4 linked regions of the Homo sapiens genome follow. The gene in region 4 interacts genetically with the main gene of each other region. Each region holds a gene or a part of one and is shown on either strand. Other genes may lie near its edges.

What was found.
Region 1: of EP300 (region 4) and NEUROG1, changing one enhances a phenotype caused by changing the other (phenotypic enhancement), as found in Homo sapiens cells (one study listed by BioGRID).
Region 2: changes in EP300 (region 4) and MBD1 together harm fitness more than expected from each alone (negative genetic interaction), as found in Homo sapiens cells (one large-scale study listed by BioGRID).
Region 3: changes in EP300 (region 4) and SEC24C together harm fitness less than expected from each alone (positive genetic interaction), as found in Homo sapiens cells (one large-scale study listed by BioGRID).

What each region holds. Positions count from the first base shown.
Region 1 is NC_000005.10:135,533,782-135,537,404, forward strand, and holds NEUROG1 (neurogenin-1), read right to left. Parts: upstream 2,184-3,623; 5' UTR 1,910-2,183; coding exon 1,196-1,909; 3' UTR 501-1,195; downstream 1-500. UniProt on the Homo sapiens protein: Acts as a transcriptional regulator. Involved in the initiation of neuronal differentiation. Activates transcription by binding to the E box (5'-CANNTG-3').
Region 2 is NC_000018.10:50,275,024-50,278,523, forward strand, and holds part of MBD1 (methyl-CpG-binding domain protein 1), read right to left. Parts: intron 2,182-3,500; coding exon 2,067-2,181; intron 1,976-2,066; coding exon 1,809-1,975; intron 1,722-1,808; coding exon 1,639-1,721; intron 1,396-1,638; coding exon 1,355-1,395; intron 959-1,354; coding exon 812-958; intron 706-811; coding exon 577-705; intron 422-576; coding exon of another isoform or gene 347-421; intron 223-346; coding exon 106-222; intron 23-105; coding exon 1-22. UniProt on the Homo sapiens protein: Transcriptional repressor that binds CpG islands in promoters where the DNA is methylated at position 5 of cytosine within CpG dinucleotides. Binding is abolished by the presence of 7-mG that is produced by DNA damage by methylmethanesulfonate (MMS).
Region 3 is NC_000010.11:73,747,372-73,750,871, forward strand, and holds part of SEC24C (protein transport protein Sec24C), read left to right. Parts: intron 1-3,500. UniProt on the Homo sapiens protein: Component of the coat protein complex II (COPII) which promotes the formation of transport vesicles from the endoplasmic reticulum (ER).
Region 4 is NC_000022.11:41,151,592-41,155,091, forward strand, and holds part of EP300 (histone acetyltransferase p300), read left to right. Parts: intron 1-241; coding exon 242-421; intron 422-614; coding exon 615-759; intron 760-3,403; coding exon 3,404-3,500. UniProt on the Homo sapiens protein: Functions as a histone acetyltransferase and regulates transcription via chromatin remodeling. Acetylates all four core histones in nucleosomes. Histone acetylation gives an epigenetic tag for transcriptional activation.

The DNA of each region.
Region 1 (3,623 bases), on a different chromosome or scaffold from region 4:
GTTTACAAATTAATTTCCCCCTCTAAATAGGCTGTTATAAGAGTGGACCCTTCTGCTTGCCTAGCCTAGGCCCACCTGTCACTGGGACTTCCTAACCAGTGGTCACACTGTATTGATCTTTTTAATCCCCTCTCTTTGAAACACAGAGCCAGCTGATGTGGAGTTCCTCAAAAGAAAGACTCTCCCACTGCCCCTACCTCAACAGGTAGCTGCGGATCCGGGGCTAATTCCCTACTAAAAAGTCTTAATTGGCTTATGGGGAGCCTGAAAGATCTCCCTTGTGTTTACAAGGTGAAAGGAATGATAGATCCCAAATGCCCTAGTCTGTCTTTATCCATTTCTTGGTGGAAATCAGGTGCGTTTTATTTTTTAATTGTTTTTGAAACAGGAACAGAGGCTTTGGAGGTGAGTGGGATAGTGTTTCACTTTAGTGGTTGAGCCAGCAGGGAAAAGCAAGAAAAGCCCCAGAGACACTAATATTAGGCAAGAAACTTGGCGACTTATTTTTAGTTTTTATTTACATGAAGCGTCTGCAGTACAAAAATGTAAACTTTGATAGCTCATAATAGAATAAACTCTTTATGTACAAAAATACATTTTCATATGAATGAAGCATCTTGAATAAATTAAAGTACTCTCCAGCCCTGTGCCTGAATAGCTAAGCAAGAGTCTCCAGTTCTTCCTAGAGCGAGTCTGCAGTGGTGGGGGTCGGGATCCATAATGCATGAAGCCCACTCCTTGTCTCTGCTTTTTAAGCCTTTTCATTGTATTGTCAGCCGGCTCAAACCGAATTTTCATGCTCGTTTTTCTTCATTAGAGTTCTACAAATTGTAAAATTGACTTTTCACCTCGTCTTCAGGGGCTGATCTGTCCCTTTTCTAAATCACACTGAAGTGGTGGCTGGGGTCAGTTCTGAGCCAGTCACAAAGGAGGTTTTGTGGAGTTCAGAAAGTGCAAAAGGAAAGGCCGTCTAGGGGCGGGCAGGAGGGGCGCTGGGCTGAGGGCCGGAGAAACAGACCAAGAGACATCCGCCGCGAGGGTGCGGCGACCTAACAAGCGGCTCAGGTATCCCCGACTGCTTTAAAGCTCCCGCTTCCTCCCTCCGCCTGGAGAGGGGGTCCCGAGGCGGCAGCTGGGGCCCCATCTATTGCCTGCTGACTAGGGGAGGGGGAAAGTAACAGTGTCTACAAAGGGCCTAGTGGTAAGGAATGAAACAGGGCGTTGTGTGGAGCAAGTCTTTGGGCAGGCTTGGGAAGGAGAAAACAGGGTCGCCGGGGCGGTAGGTGAAGTCTTCGGAGGCGGCTGGGCTACTGGGGTCAGAGAGCGGGGAGGCGGCGGCGGCACCTGAGCCCCAGGACTCCGCGTCGCTGGCGGGGCTTGGGGGACCGGGCAGGCAGGGGACGCACTGCGGCGGCAGGAGGCGCTCCCGGGCACCGCCTCCGGGCAGCCCTTGATCCGCCAGGCGCAGTGTCTCGGCCAGAGCCCAGATGTAGTTGTAGGCGAAGCGCAGCGTCTCGATTTTGGTGAGCTTGGTGTCGTCGGGGAACGAGGGCAGCACGCTGCGCAGTGCGTCCAGGGCCGCGTTCAAGTTGTGCATGCGGTTGCGCTCGCGATCGTTGGCCTTGACGCGCCGGCTCCTGCGCAGCGAGTGCAGCAGCGCCTCGGAGCGGACCCGCGTCCGGCCGCGGCGCCGCCGCCTCTCCTGCTCGTCGTCCTGTGCCCCTGGAACCTCAGACGCCCGGGAGATATTGGGCGCGCCCCTGCGGGCCGGCGCGGGCGGCCCCGAAGCGGAGGCTGCCTGTTGGAGTCTGGCACAGTCTTCCTCGTCGGTGAGGAAGCCGGATAGGTCACTGCCGCTGCTGCTGGCGCAGTCGAGGTCGGAGATGCAGGTCTCAAGGCGGGCTGGCATCGTTGCGCTGTGCAGGACCGACGGACAGATAGAAAGGCGCTCAGAGCGCTGCAGCCCGGACTGAGGGCAGAGCCGCCAGGGCGCACTTACGTTCCCAACAGCCTGGGGTTGTTACTCTGTGCCAGTTGCGGGTGCGAGAGCCTGGAAGGGTGCAGGGGCGCACGGAGAACTTGGCCTGGCCTCCTCGCCTCGCCTGCAGGGGCCACGCGCCCGGCCGGTCTCCTGAGTGATGTCGCCGGCGATCAGATCAGCTCGTGTGAGCACCGAGTGTGGCACACGACTGGCCTCAGGACCCCTTAAGTACCCGGCGCAACAATGGGCGCCCCCCTCCCTTGCCACCTCCGCCCCCGCGGCAGCCCGGGTGAATGGAGCGAGGCGGCAGGTCATCCCCGTGCAGCGCCCGGGTATTTGCATAATTTATGCTCGCGGGAGGCCGCCATCGCCCCTCCCCCAACCCGGAGTGTGCCCGTAATTACCGCCGGCCAATCGGCGGCGTCGCGCGGCCCCGGGAGTCGGCTCGGGCTAAGCTGGCCAGGGCGTCTCCAGGCAGTGAAACAGAGGCGGGGTCGGCGGGCGATTAGCGGCCGAGGCACGCTCCTCTTGGGGCGGGCTGGGCGCCCCTCGCTGGGGTGGGACGGGGAGGCGGGGCGCGAGCGCGAAAGTGTGAGCCGCCCAGTGAGTTGCGGAAACCTGGAGGGTACTTGGAGTTTGGGTTCGCATCCCCTCTCCAGCTGCTTAGTGGTCGCGTGACTTTGGACGAGTAATTTAACTTCCCTGAGCATTGCTTTCCCCACCTGTAAGATGAGACAAAAGTTTACCCTGTGGAGGATGATCAGATATAATGTTTGTGGAACACTAAATGTGCAGCATCCGCTGAACAGGGTGAAAATCATTTTCAAATAGACTGGAGAGTGGCCATGCCAGAGGCACAGGGCGCAGGGCAAGGATAAGTGTCGCTGCTCCGTTCAGGCTGATGAAGAAACGGGAAAGAATCTGACCTTCATCTGGGGAGTGCGAAGAGGAGAGTGGAAAAGAGGATCGGGTGATTTCCCAGGTTGCCTTGAGTCTTGGTCTCACCCTTCCCTTCTTTCCCTTCCCTTCTCCACCCTCCTCCGCACCTCTGCCCACAAGTCACCTCAAGATTCTTAATAAGAATTAATAATATGAGAATTTATATAAATAATAATATGAGAATATAATTATTAATATGAGAATTTCCTTTTCTTTGGCGTTCCTGAAACCTTGCCTGCCCCATGCCCGGAGAAATCCGTTGCACACCGTCTCTTGGAGCCCTGCTTGCAGCCTCTGTGGCCCTCTTCAGGGTGAGCCAGCCAGGGGATCCAGCTCCCCTGGCCCGAGAGAGAGCTGGCCCCTGGAGGGCAGCAGGTGACAGTGGAACCCCTTTCCTCCAAACCCCCTCCCGCCTTCGGTGTCTTAAACTCGCCTATTCCAGCAGGTCTTCCCTCTGCATGTCAGGAGTTACTTTTCTCTTGTCACCTACACTCACCCAGGAGCCACAGGGGCCCAGACATCACCCAACTTTGTACTTGGAGGATAAATAGTAAGGAACAGCACTCGATTATAGGATGAGGGTATTAAAAACAAAATGAGCAGCTTTCAGCAAAGTGCCTGCCCCCCACCTGATATCCAAGTGGTAGCCTCAGGCCGGATGCCTGGCCTGCTGCCATGGGAGCCTAGCTGACTCTTTGGGTTG
Region 2 (3,500 bases), on a different chromosome or scaffold from region 4:
AGGGGGCCAGGGCTCTGGGGTGCTGTAGAGGCAAATGGGGTGGGGTCAGGGCAGGTACTGGGTAAGGTCAGGGTTGTGCCTTCCCTCCACCCACTGGGGCCTCACCGGCTCTGTGGGCTCTGGGGACTGTGATGGGGGTGGTGGAGGCAGTGGCTGGGCTCCGGGGCGCCGCCTGGCAGCCATCTTGGAGTCACAGCCTCCCTTGCGGCGGGCATGTTTACCCTGGGAAAGATCAGAAAGGGTGGTTTCAGCTTGGTGGCACCAGGCAGACACAGAAACTCCCCACACCCTAAGTGCAGAAAGCATGCATGGGACAGGCAGACAGAGGGTGGCGTGAGGCACTCACAGTTGGGGGAGCCACAGCCAGGGGAGTGCGTCGCTGACATCTCTGATGACGGCGACGCAGGCGGTGAGCAAGGTGCTGGCAGACAGAGGCAGGTAGGCGGGGCCAGAAAGGCGAGCATAGGGTTAGGCAGAAAAGAAAGACATGAGGTAGGCAAGGCCAGGTTGAAAGGAAGCAGAGGCAGCGACGATTTTAACAGCAGAATGAGCTCTGCTCCCTCCAGCCCAACTCACCCGTAGGCAACGTCGCTGGACACATTTCCACTGGCGCCTGAGACCAGGGCGGGGAGGGCGAAGGCAGATGGGGCAATGGCCACAATCCTCTTGGGTCTGACAGCCCCGGCATACTCCACACCCTCGGCTCTGTTGGCGGGGGGCAGGTGGGAGCAGAGGCATGAAGCATGGGGCCAAGCCCATGGGGGCCAGGGGCCGAGGTGAGCCTTGGGCTCTTTCCACTTGCCCAACTCACCCTTTCCACAATCCGGAGGCAGCGTCTCCGTTCACACTTGCAGAACAGCCCCGATGCCACATCATGGGGCAGCTGCAGGAGGCAGGTGGAGCAGGCCCCACAGTCTTCTGTTACCTGGCAGGCTGCACACTCCCCACAGCCCACACGCTGCCAGGAATGGTAGGGACGAGATCACGGGCCTGCTCCAGAAGCACTGGTCCTCCCATGTCTACTGACCCTACATCAGCTGGCATCACCATGAATTTTAGTCCCCCATTAGCCTCATCACCGTATCTGAGAAGGTCTGGTTAGTCACCATCACTGAGGCCATTAGTATGTCTACTGGTCCCCTGTTCACTTCATCACTGTGTCTACTGATGCACTAATGGTAATGGGGATTAATTACCCCATTAATTCCCATTATTGTGTCTGCTGACCTATGGAGAGCACCCTATAAAATGACTCTTCATCCTGTGGACCCATCATCATCCCTTCAGACTCTACCAGCTCCATCACATCCTGCTCCCACTGCAGAGTTGTGAAGAGGAAGCAGGTTGTGCTTACCTTAAACATTCTCTGTTCCCGGTTGAAGGCAATTCTCTGTGCTGTGGGGAGGAAGAGGGAAGAAGAAAAGTGGAAAGGAAGCAACAGACATCTGACTTCACTCACTGCCTGTGCCCTGACTTCCACTATTCAACCTCTACCTATGCCTGCTATCTCCAATATCCAACCTCCAACCATGCCAGTAGCCTCTGTCCTGACATCCACATTCAAACCCCAGCCTAGCATGACACTGGACCTGCTCCAGCTCCTATCTCCCGATGCCCCATCCTCTGGAGGCCACTCACCTCGACAGTCTTTGCACAACGTTTTGAGCCGCTGCCTTTGGGTGCCATCCCCTGAGAAGCTGATTCCACAGTTCTCACAGCACCTGGGATGGGAAAGGCAGGTGTGGGGCTCCAAGAGCACCCCCAATCACAACCCTCACCCATCTGGCTCACCTTAGACCAACACTCACCCAGGAGCAGGGAATGAAGCTGGGGCTGTGTCAGTGTCAGCCTTGGTCTCATCCCTCGGGGCCTCCTTCCTGACCTCACCACTCTGGGGTCCAACCTGACGTTTCCGAGTCTTGGCTGGCCTTGAAGGCTTCTTTCGCTTCTTGCTGGCAACCGCCACGGGATGGGCCTGGAAAGTAAGGGAAGGAGGAATATGGGTCAGTGGTTGGGTGTTGGGTGGCACATCCACCCCTACCTAGGTATCTCATGTTGTGAAGTACCTTGGGGGCTGGATAGCACAAGATGCCTTGTTTGAAGTCGAAGAGGGTGAGATCACACGCAGGGCCCAGGTATCGAGTCAGCTCAACTTTGCTTCGGATCCTGTCTCCTGTGGGGCTAGGGATGGGCCATGATGGGTTAGCACCCAGGTGGAGCCAATGCCATTTCACTCATACAACCTTTTGACAGGGCTGGCAGGATATAGGAGGCAGCCTGGAATTGGCTTGTGAGCCCTGCCCAGCCCCCACCTCAACTAACCTTGAAAACATAAAAAAATTAATATAAATACCAACACATATAGAAACATTAGAAACAATATAAATGTAAACAGATGAACATATTTACAACATATAATACTAGTAATACTGGAACTATTTCATGTAAGTAAAAATAAACACAAATAGGAACACAAATATATTATATTTGTGTTATATATATATAACACAAATATAACATATAAATGTTAGCATTATGTACCAAGTATATATCAAGTAAAGAAAACACAAATATGTTTTAAAAACATATAAACAAATGCAACTACATACAAATTAAAGTATAAGTAATTGATTTTGGGACCCCCATGGGTTTCTTGCATTTTTGTATGCCCTGCAAGAGAGACAACGATTGTCCTTTTTGATAAACTATCTTTCCAAGGATGTTTGTAAAGCAAACAACCTTGGAAGATAAGAGATAGGGTCTCCTTCCATAGGAGGAAGGGAAAGTATACTTTTTCCAAAGGGAAAGCATACTTACTGTCTTAATATTATTTAAAAAAAACCTGATTCTCTAAGCTCACGGTTCTTTTCCTATAATAATACAACCCTCTTCACGTCATGCTGTAGGAATTGGGATTCAGAAACTGGCACAAAAATAGTAATACAGTAATTCCCCCTCTCGTGCAGGGGATACATCCCAAGTTCCCCAGTGGATGCCTGAAACCGTGGATAGTACCAAACCCTAATGTAATATGTACTGTGTTTTTTCTATCTGATAACTGAGATGGTTACTGTGTGACTAACAGGCAGGTTGTGTCTAGAACATGGATATGGATACGGATATGGACAAAGAGATGATTCACCTCTTGAGCAGGACTGAGCGGGATGGTGTGAGATTTCATCACGCTACTCAAAACGGCACACAATTCAAAACTAATGAATTGTTTATTTCTAAAATTTTCCATTTAATATTTTTGGATGGTGGTTGACTGTAGGTAACTAAAGCTGTGGAAAATGAAATTGCAGATAAGGGGGAGACTACTGTATTCTGGATCCTGCAACTGTTGTAATAAACTGTCTTTGATCTGTAACCCAGGAGTCTTACCCCTCCTACCAGCATCTACAAAATTCTGACAAATTCACTATTATCTTGTCCTAAGAATGAAATCTCAGGTTCTTTATAGTTCTTGACAACTGCACTTTTAAGTTTTGAAAGTTTTA
Region 3 (3,500 bases), on a different chromosome or scaffold from region 4:
TTTGAGATAGAGTCTCTCTCTGTCGCCCAGGCTGGAGTGCAGTGGCACCCTCTTGGCTGCAACCTCCACCTTCCAGGTTCAAGCAGTTCTCTGCCTCAGCCTCCTGAGTAGCTAGGATTACAGGCATCCACCACCACACCAGCTAATTTTTTTGTCTTTTTAGTAGAGATGGGGGTTTCACCATCTTGGCCAGGCTGGTCTTGAACTCCTGACCTTGTGATCTGCCCGCCTCAGCCTCCCAAAGTGCTGGGATTATAGGCGTGAGCTACCGTGCCTGGCCTGTATTTTTTTTTTTTTTTTTTTTTGAGACAGAGTTTTACTCTTGTTGCCCAGGCTGTAGTGCAGTGGCACGATCTCGGCTCACCACAACCTCCATCTCCTGGGTTCAAGTGATTCTCCTGCCTCAGCCTCCCGAATAACTGGGATTACAGGCATGCACCACCATACCCTGCTAATTTTGTATCTTTAGTAGAGATGGGGTTTCTCCATGTTGGTCAGGCTGGTCTTGAACTCCCAACCTCAAGTGATCCACCCACCTCGGACTCCCAAAATGCTGAGATTACAGGCGTGAGCCACCACACCTGGCCACTGTTTGTATTTTTAGTAGAGATGGGGTTTTACCAGTGGCCAGGAAGGTCTTGAAGAACTGCTGACCTCAAATGATCCACCAGCCTTGGCCTCCCAAAATGCTGGGATTACAGGCTTCAGCCACCACGCCCGGCCCCTTCCCTGTTTTTTTATTTTATTTTACTTATTTTATTATTTATTTATTTATTTATTTTTTGAGACAGTCTCGCTCTGTTGCCCAGGCTGGAGTGCAGTGGCACAATCTCGGCTCACTGCAACCTCCGCCTCCCAGATTCAAGCAATTCTCCTGCCTCAGCCTCCAGAGTAGCTGTGATTACAGGCTCCCGCCACCATGCCCGGCATTTTTTGTATTTTTAGTAGAGACAGTGTTACACCATGTTGGCCAGGCTGGTCTCGAACTCCTGACCTCAAATGATTCACCCATCTCGGCTTCCCAAAGTGCTGACATTACAGGCATGAGCCACCACCTCTGGCCTTATTTTTAATATTTTTTGAGATGGAATTTTGCTCTTGTTACCCAGGCTGGAGTGCAATGGCACAATCTCAGCTTACTGTAACCTCCGCCTCCCAGGTTCAAGTGATTCTCCTGCCTCAGCCTCCCAAGTAGCTGGGATTACAGGCATGTGCCACCACACCCGGCTAATGTTTTGTATTTTTATTAGAGATGGGGTTTCACCATGTTGGCCAGGCTGGTCTCAAACTCCTGGCCTCAGGTGATCCACCCGCCTCAGCCTCCCAAATGCTGGGATTACAGGTGTGAGCCACCGTACCTGGCCTTATTTTTTTTCTTTTTTATTTTTGAGCTGGAGTTTGGCTCTTGTTACCCAGGCTGGAGTGCAATGGCACAATCTCAGCTCACTGCAACCTCTGCCTCCCAGGTTCAAGTGATTCTCGTGCCTCAGCCTCCTGAGTAGCTGGGATACAGGCACCCACCACCACACCTGGCTAATTTTTTGTATTTTTAGTAGAGATGGGATTTTGCCATGTTGGCCAGGCTGGTCTCGAACTCCTGACCTCAGGTGATCCACTTGCCTCGGCCTCTCAAAGTGCTAGGATTACAAACGTAAGCCACCACGCCCAGCTGTCTTCCCTGTTTTTAGATAAGGTACTGTGTTTCTGCCTTAAGCCATCTAGTGGGAACACATCTCCCAGGTTCACTGACTGTTCACTTCCTGTGGGTATCACCTTGTGCAGCCTTACCTGGTCACATTGTTCAGAGCTAAATGGAAGGGTTGTGGTCCACACCCCTCTAGATCCTGTGACCAGGACCGAATATTTCCTGTTGACTTGTAGTCTCCTTGAAATAATTTATTCGTCATATATGTTGAGAAAGCCTCTTGTTGGACTGATGATTCTTATGTATGAATGACCCTGGGACAGTGTAGTTTATGGGGGTGAAAAGTGTGATATTTGTGTGCCTGACTTTTGGTGCGTCTCATGTCTTCTGATATCCATCCTTTTCCTTTGCTTGAGTTTCCTCTGCTTCTTAGATGCTCTGTAATGTCATGGTAATAAGATAATACTAATCTGATGCTGTTCTAGGTTCAGTGTTTGGCTTTTAACCTTACCTTTTCTTTTTCTTTTTTTTTTTTTTTCTTTTTGGAGACAGAGTCTTACTCTGTCACCCAGGCTGGAGTGCAGTGGCACGATCTTGGCTCATTGTAACCTCTGTCTCCCGGGTTCAAGCAGTTCTCCTGTCTCAGCCTCCCGAATAGCTGGGATTACAGGCACATGCCACCACGCCCGGCTAATTTTTATATTTTTAGTAGAGACAGGGTTTCACCATGTTGGCCAGGCTGGTCTCGAACTCCTGACTTCGTGATCCACCTGCCTTGGCCTCCCAAAGTGCTGGGATTACAGGCGTGAGCCACCACGTCCAGCCTTACCTTACTTTCTCAAGAAGAGCAGCTAGTACTCTACCGATTCTCCAGAGGGGCTTTTTGGAAATAGTTAACAGTAGATCTTTGCTTAGGCTAGCCGATGATTTAGGGTATGCCAAACTCTATGCTTTCATAAAGAGATATGGAAAAAAGAAGGCATCAAGGAGGTACTGGTAAGATTTGGGAAATAATGAAGTATGATGATTTTAACTGTGGGGAAAAAATATTGTGATGAGATTAGGCCCCAGGTCTTTGGAAGAACCTTAATTCTAAGCTGAGACTTTGGCTGGACAGAGTCCACCTCTGCTTTGTCAAGTGCTCGAGTTTGGCATTCTCTCATGAGAAAGCTTTGTTAGAGGAAAACATATCTGATTCTGTCATGGTTGGTGAGCAAGTTTAGGCTAATCATGTTCCTGTAGGCAGGTTCTATAATGTCTAATCTCTACTGAGGGCAGAGCAAAAGAAAAGCATTCTTTGAACAGAGGTCATCCACATTTCAAAAGTGATGTGCCAAGTAACTAATTGCTTTCTCCCTGAACTTCATATGTGAAGAATGGCTAAGGGTAGTGTAAGTAGCTTTGGTGGTGGTTCTAAGGAATAGGAAGGATGGAGTACAGCTTTTGTGAGGACATAGGTGGCAATGCTGATGGGAGGACAGGCCAGCTGTCCTTACTGAACTGTTGGGCAGAAACAAGGTCTCCGATCTATAGGAACACGTTCCTGAATCGTGCTGTTTCATGTTTTCACACTTAGAAGTGGATGAAAGGATATAGTTAGTGTAAGCAGAATGAATGAAGAAGAAGGTGGCAGAATAATCTCCCCAAGAGATGCCTTTCTTTGCAGCCTAGTTCCGTATATTACTTGGTCATCTTCTGAGTCTCCTTTTTCATATATGCTCCAAGTTTCTGAGTTCTGGAGTAAGATCTTTTCCTTAAAAGGGTTGGCTTGTTGTCTAGGGTAAGAATATCAGGCAGTCTTGGATTGACTGAGAGTATGGTGATCAAAGGAAGGCCCTACATTCTTGTGCCTCTG
Region 4 (3,500 bases):
GAAATAGTTGCTGGTTCTTTGATGTACAATCAGCCAACCAGTATTTACAAGTCTTAATTCTCCTGTTCTTAAGCATAATTAAGGGAGGTGAAATGGGCAGAGCAAATGAAAGCACCATGAATAAATATAAGCCAAGAAATAGGTGGCTAATTCTGCTATCCTGTTGCTTACCTTACATTCTGATTGTATCGTTGGCAGACTCTGCGTGTGTCTCACCTACTTCCCTTTTTTTTCTGCCCAGCTTTCCCAGCCAGCTGTAAGCATTGAAGGACAGGTATCAAATCCTCCATCTACTAGTAGCACAGAAGTGAATTCTCAGGCCATTGCTGAGAAGCAGCCTTCCCAGGAAGTGAAGATGGAGGCCAAAATGGAAGTGGATCAACCAGAACCAGCAGATACTCAGCCGGAGGATATTTCAGAGGTGAGAGTAGGGCAATTACTGTTTGATTTGGTTAGGACCTCAGTATAGGAACCCAAGTTTTAAAAAATATTGCAGAAAAATATTTTGATAATTAGATCTCATGGCATAGATTTTGCATGAGAAAGGGTGTTCAGATTACTGATTCCCAACTAGATATCTTTGGAATACTAAAAATTCTTACGTTTTCTTTTAGTCTAAAGTGGAAGACTGTAAAATGGAATCTACCGAAACAGAAGAGAGAAGCACTGAGTTAAAAACTGAAATAAAAGAGGAGGAAGACCAGCCAAGTACTTCAGCTACCCAGTCATCTCCGGCTCCAGGACAGTCAAAGAAAAAGAGTGAGTCTCTGAAGCCATTCGTTCTGGAGGTAGCTGAAGAAACCAAAGACCCAGGGCAGAATTGCGGTCATGCCTCTTGGGCCTCAGAAGTTGCCATTATTGTGATTTCATTAACCTGGAAGCCCTGGGCCTGGTCTCTTCATTGTTACTAATAATTTTTCTTTCTTTTTTTTTTTTTTAATATTCACTTGCAGCAACCAATGAGTTAAGTCATTCCCCTCATTTCTTCAGGGTTCCCTGTGTTAGTACACCCTAAAAATTGTCTCATTTTTCAGGAGAGAGAAATGTTTGTAAATAGCCTTGACTAAAATGCAGGAAAGAATAGCAATAGTAATAGCATTTGTCATTCACCTGCTGTGTGCTAAGTATCCACATTGTCTCATTTAATAATTTCTTTCTTTCTTTTTCTTTTCTTTTTTGTTTGGAATCGGATTCTCACTTTTGTTGTTCAGGCTGGAGTGCAGTGGCGGGATCTGAGCTCACTGCAACCTCCACCTCCCAGGTTCAAGCGATTCTCCTGCCTCAGCCTCCCGAGTATCTGGGACTGCATGCGCATGCCACCATGCCCGTCTAATTTTTGTATTTTTAGTAGAGACAGGATTTCACCGTGTTGGCCAGGATGGTCTCGATCTCTTGACCTGGTGATCCACCCGCTTCGAGCTCCCAAAGTGCTGGGATTACAGGCATGAGCTACCACACCCGGCCTCATTTAATAATTTCACAACAGCTCTGAGGTTATTGGCCTGAAGCTTAGCAAAGTTAAGTAACTTTCCACAGGTTACTCAGCTGACCCTACTGCCTGGGCCAGGAAGCAGACCCAGGCAGTCTGAGGCAGAGTGCTCAAATCCAGCCATTCCAACAAGTGTTAATTGACTATTTTAGGACTAGAACTTTTGTGGCTCTAGTGATCTGCAAAAGGCACCAGGTAGGACATACCTGAGGAGTGAGTCTGCTGGCTCTTACAGATGATATATATTGAAAAGTGTTCCATTAATACAATGTGTTGTAAAATGTTGGGATTAAAAAATTATTTTCATTTTAAAAATAAGACTTGTATATATTGAGGTGTTTTAATATGGGCTGTAACAAACCCAGTCTTACTATTGGCAATCTCTCTTTAAAATGTGTGTTCCCTCATGCCTGTAATCCCACCGCTTTGGGAGGCCGAGCGGGCAGATCACTTGAGGTCAGGAGTTCAAGACCAGCCTGGCCAATATGGTGAAACTCTGTCTCTACTAAAAGTACAAAAGTTAGCCGGGTGTGGTGGCTCTCACCCGTAGTCCCATCTACTTGGGAGGCTGAGGCAGAAGAATCACTTGAACCCGGGAGATGGAAGGAGGTTGCAGTGAGCCAAGATGGCGCCACTGCACTCCAGCCTGAGTGACAGAGAGTAATTGTCTCAAACAAATAAATAAAATAAAATGTCTAATTTCACAAGTTTATTCAAATAGTCCTTATTTTTAGCACAGCTAAATATGAGTGACAAGCATCTTCGTAGTCTGGTTTCCCCCCACTCCATGGCAACCCCCCAGAGGTGAAAATTATCTGAAGTAACAAATATACTCTACCGATGATGAAATTTTTTTTGCCAATTAAGAAAAAATAAGGCCCTTGCTGAAATTGAAAGCTTTTTAAATCACTGGCTTCTCAAAGAACTGTTTGATTCCATTTGGGACACACCAACAAATTTTTCCGGACTTTTTGGGAAATATCATTGAGAACACATTTGAACTTAATTTGATCAACTAAGTCTATTATTTTAGCAATACCATTTTTGTTCTCTCTTCTTTTAAACTTAAACCTAACATTTGTCATTAAAATAGTACATGTCTCTTTTTCTTTGGCTCTAAAATACCAAGCATTTGAACGAAGGAGTCTTCTCTTCTGTGCCCCTGACTCCTTGTAGTATAAGACAATACCTGATCTAGTCTAGTTTCTGACTTGTTAAATACTGATGTCATGAAGAAAGACTTTTCTGTTCTTGCTTGACTGCATCTCCCTCTTAACACGAGTATCTTGTGCACTCTTTTTTTTTTTTTTTTTTTTTTTGAGATGGGGCCTCATTCTGTTGCCTAGGCTGGAGTGCAGTGGCGCCATCTCGGCTCACTGCAACATCTGCCTCCCGAGTTCAAGCAGTTCTCTTGCCTCAAGCCTCCTGAGTAGCTGAGACTAGCATGCCACCATGTCCGACTAATTTTTTATATTTTTAGTAGAGACGAGGTTTCACCATGTTGGCCAGGCTGAAACTTCTGACCTCAAAGTGATCTGCCCACCTCAGCCTCCACCGTGCCTGGTCCCATGGACTCTTATTTGGCAAAGTCTCTTCATAAATTTTTAGAAGCCTTTGGATTCTGCTTCTAATTGACCGAGTCTGTCTTCACTGACTTTGTGACTGAAAAGTTAAGCTGAGGGTGAAGAGTGTTTTAAGGTGATAAGACACAATGTTTTTTAGGAGCTGTCTGAAACAAAGCGGGGCTTAGAATCTAGAATCAGTGATTGAGCCTGTAGTGATATTTCCATGGGGACAGAGTGGTTAATTTTGTTATTGATTCTTGAGATGCTTTTAGAGCTTCAGGCTGAATGATTTTTTAAAGTTCTTCTGCTTAATTGGTAACTAATTTCAAATGCACTTTTTTTTTTTAAGTTTTCAAACCAGAAGAACTACGACAGGCACTGATGCCAACTTTGGAGGCACTTTACCGTCAGGATCCAGAATCCCTTCCCTTTCGTCAACCTGTGGA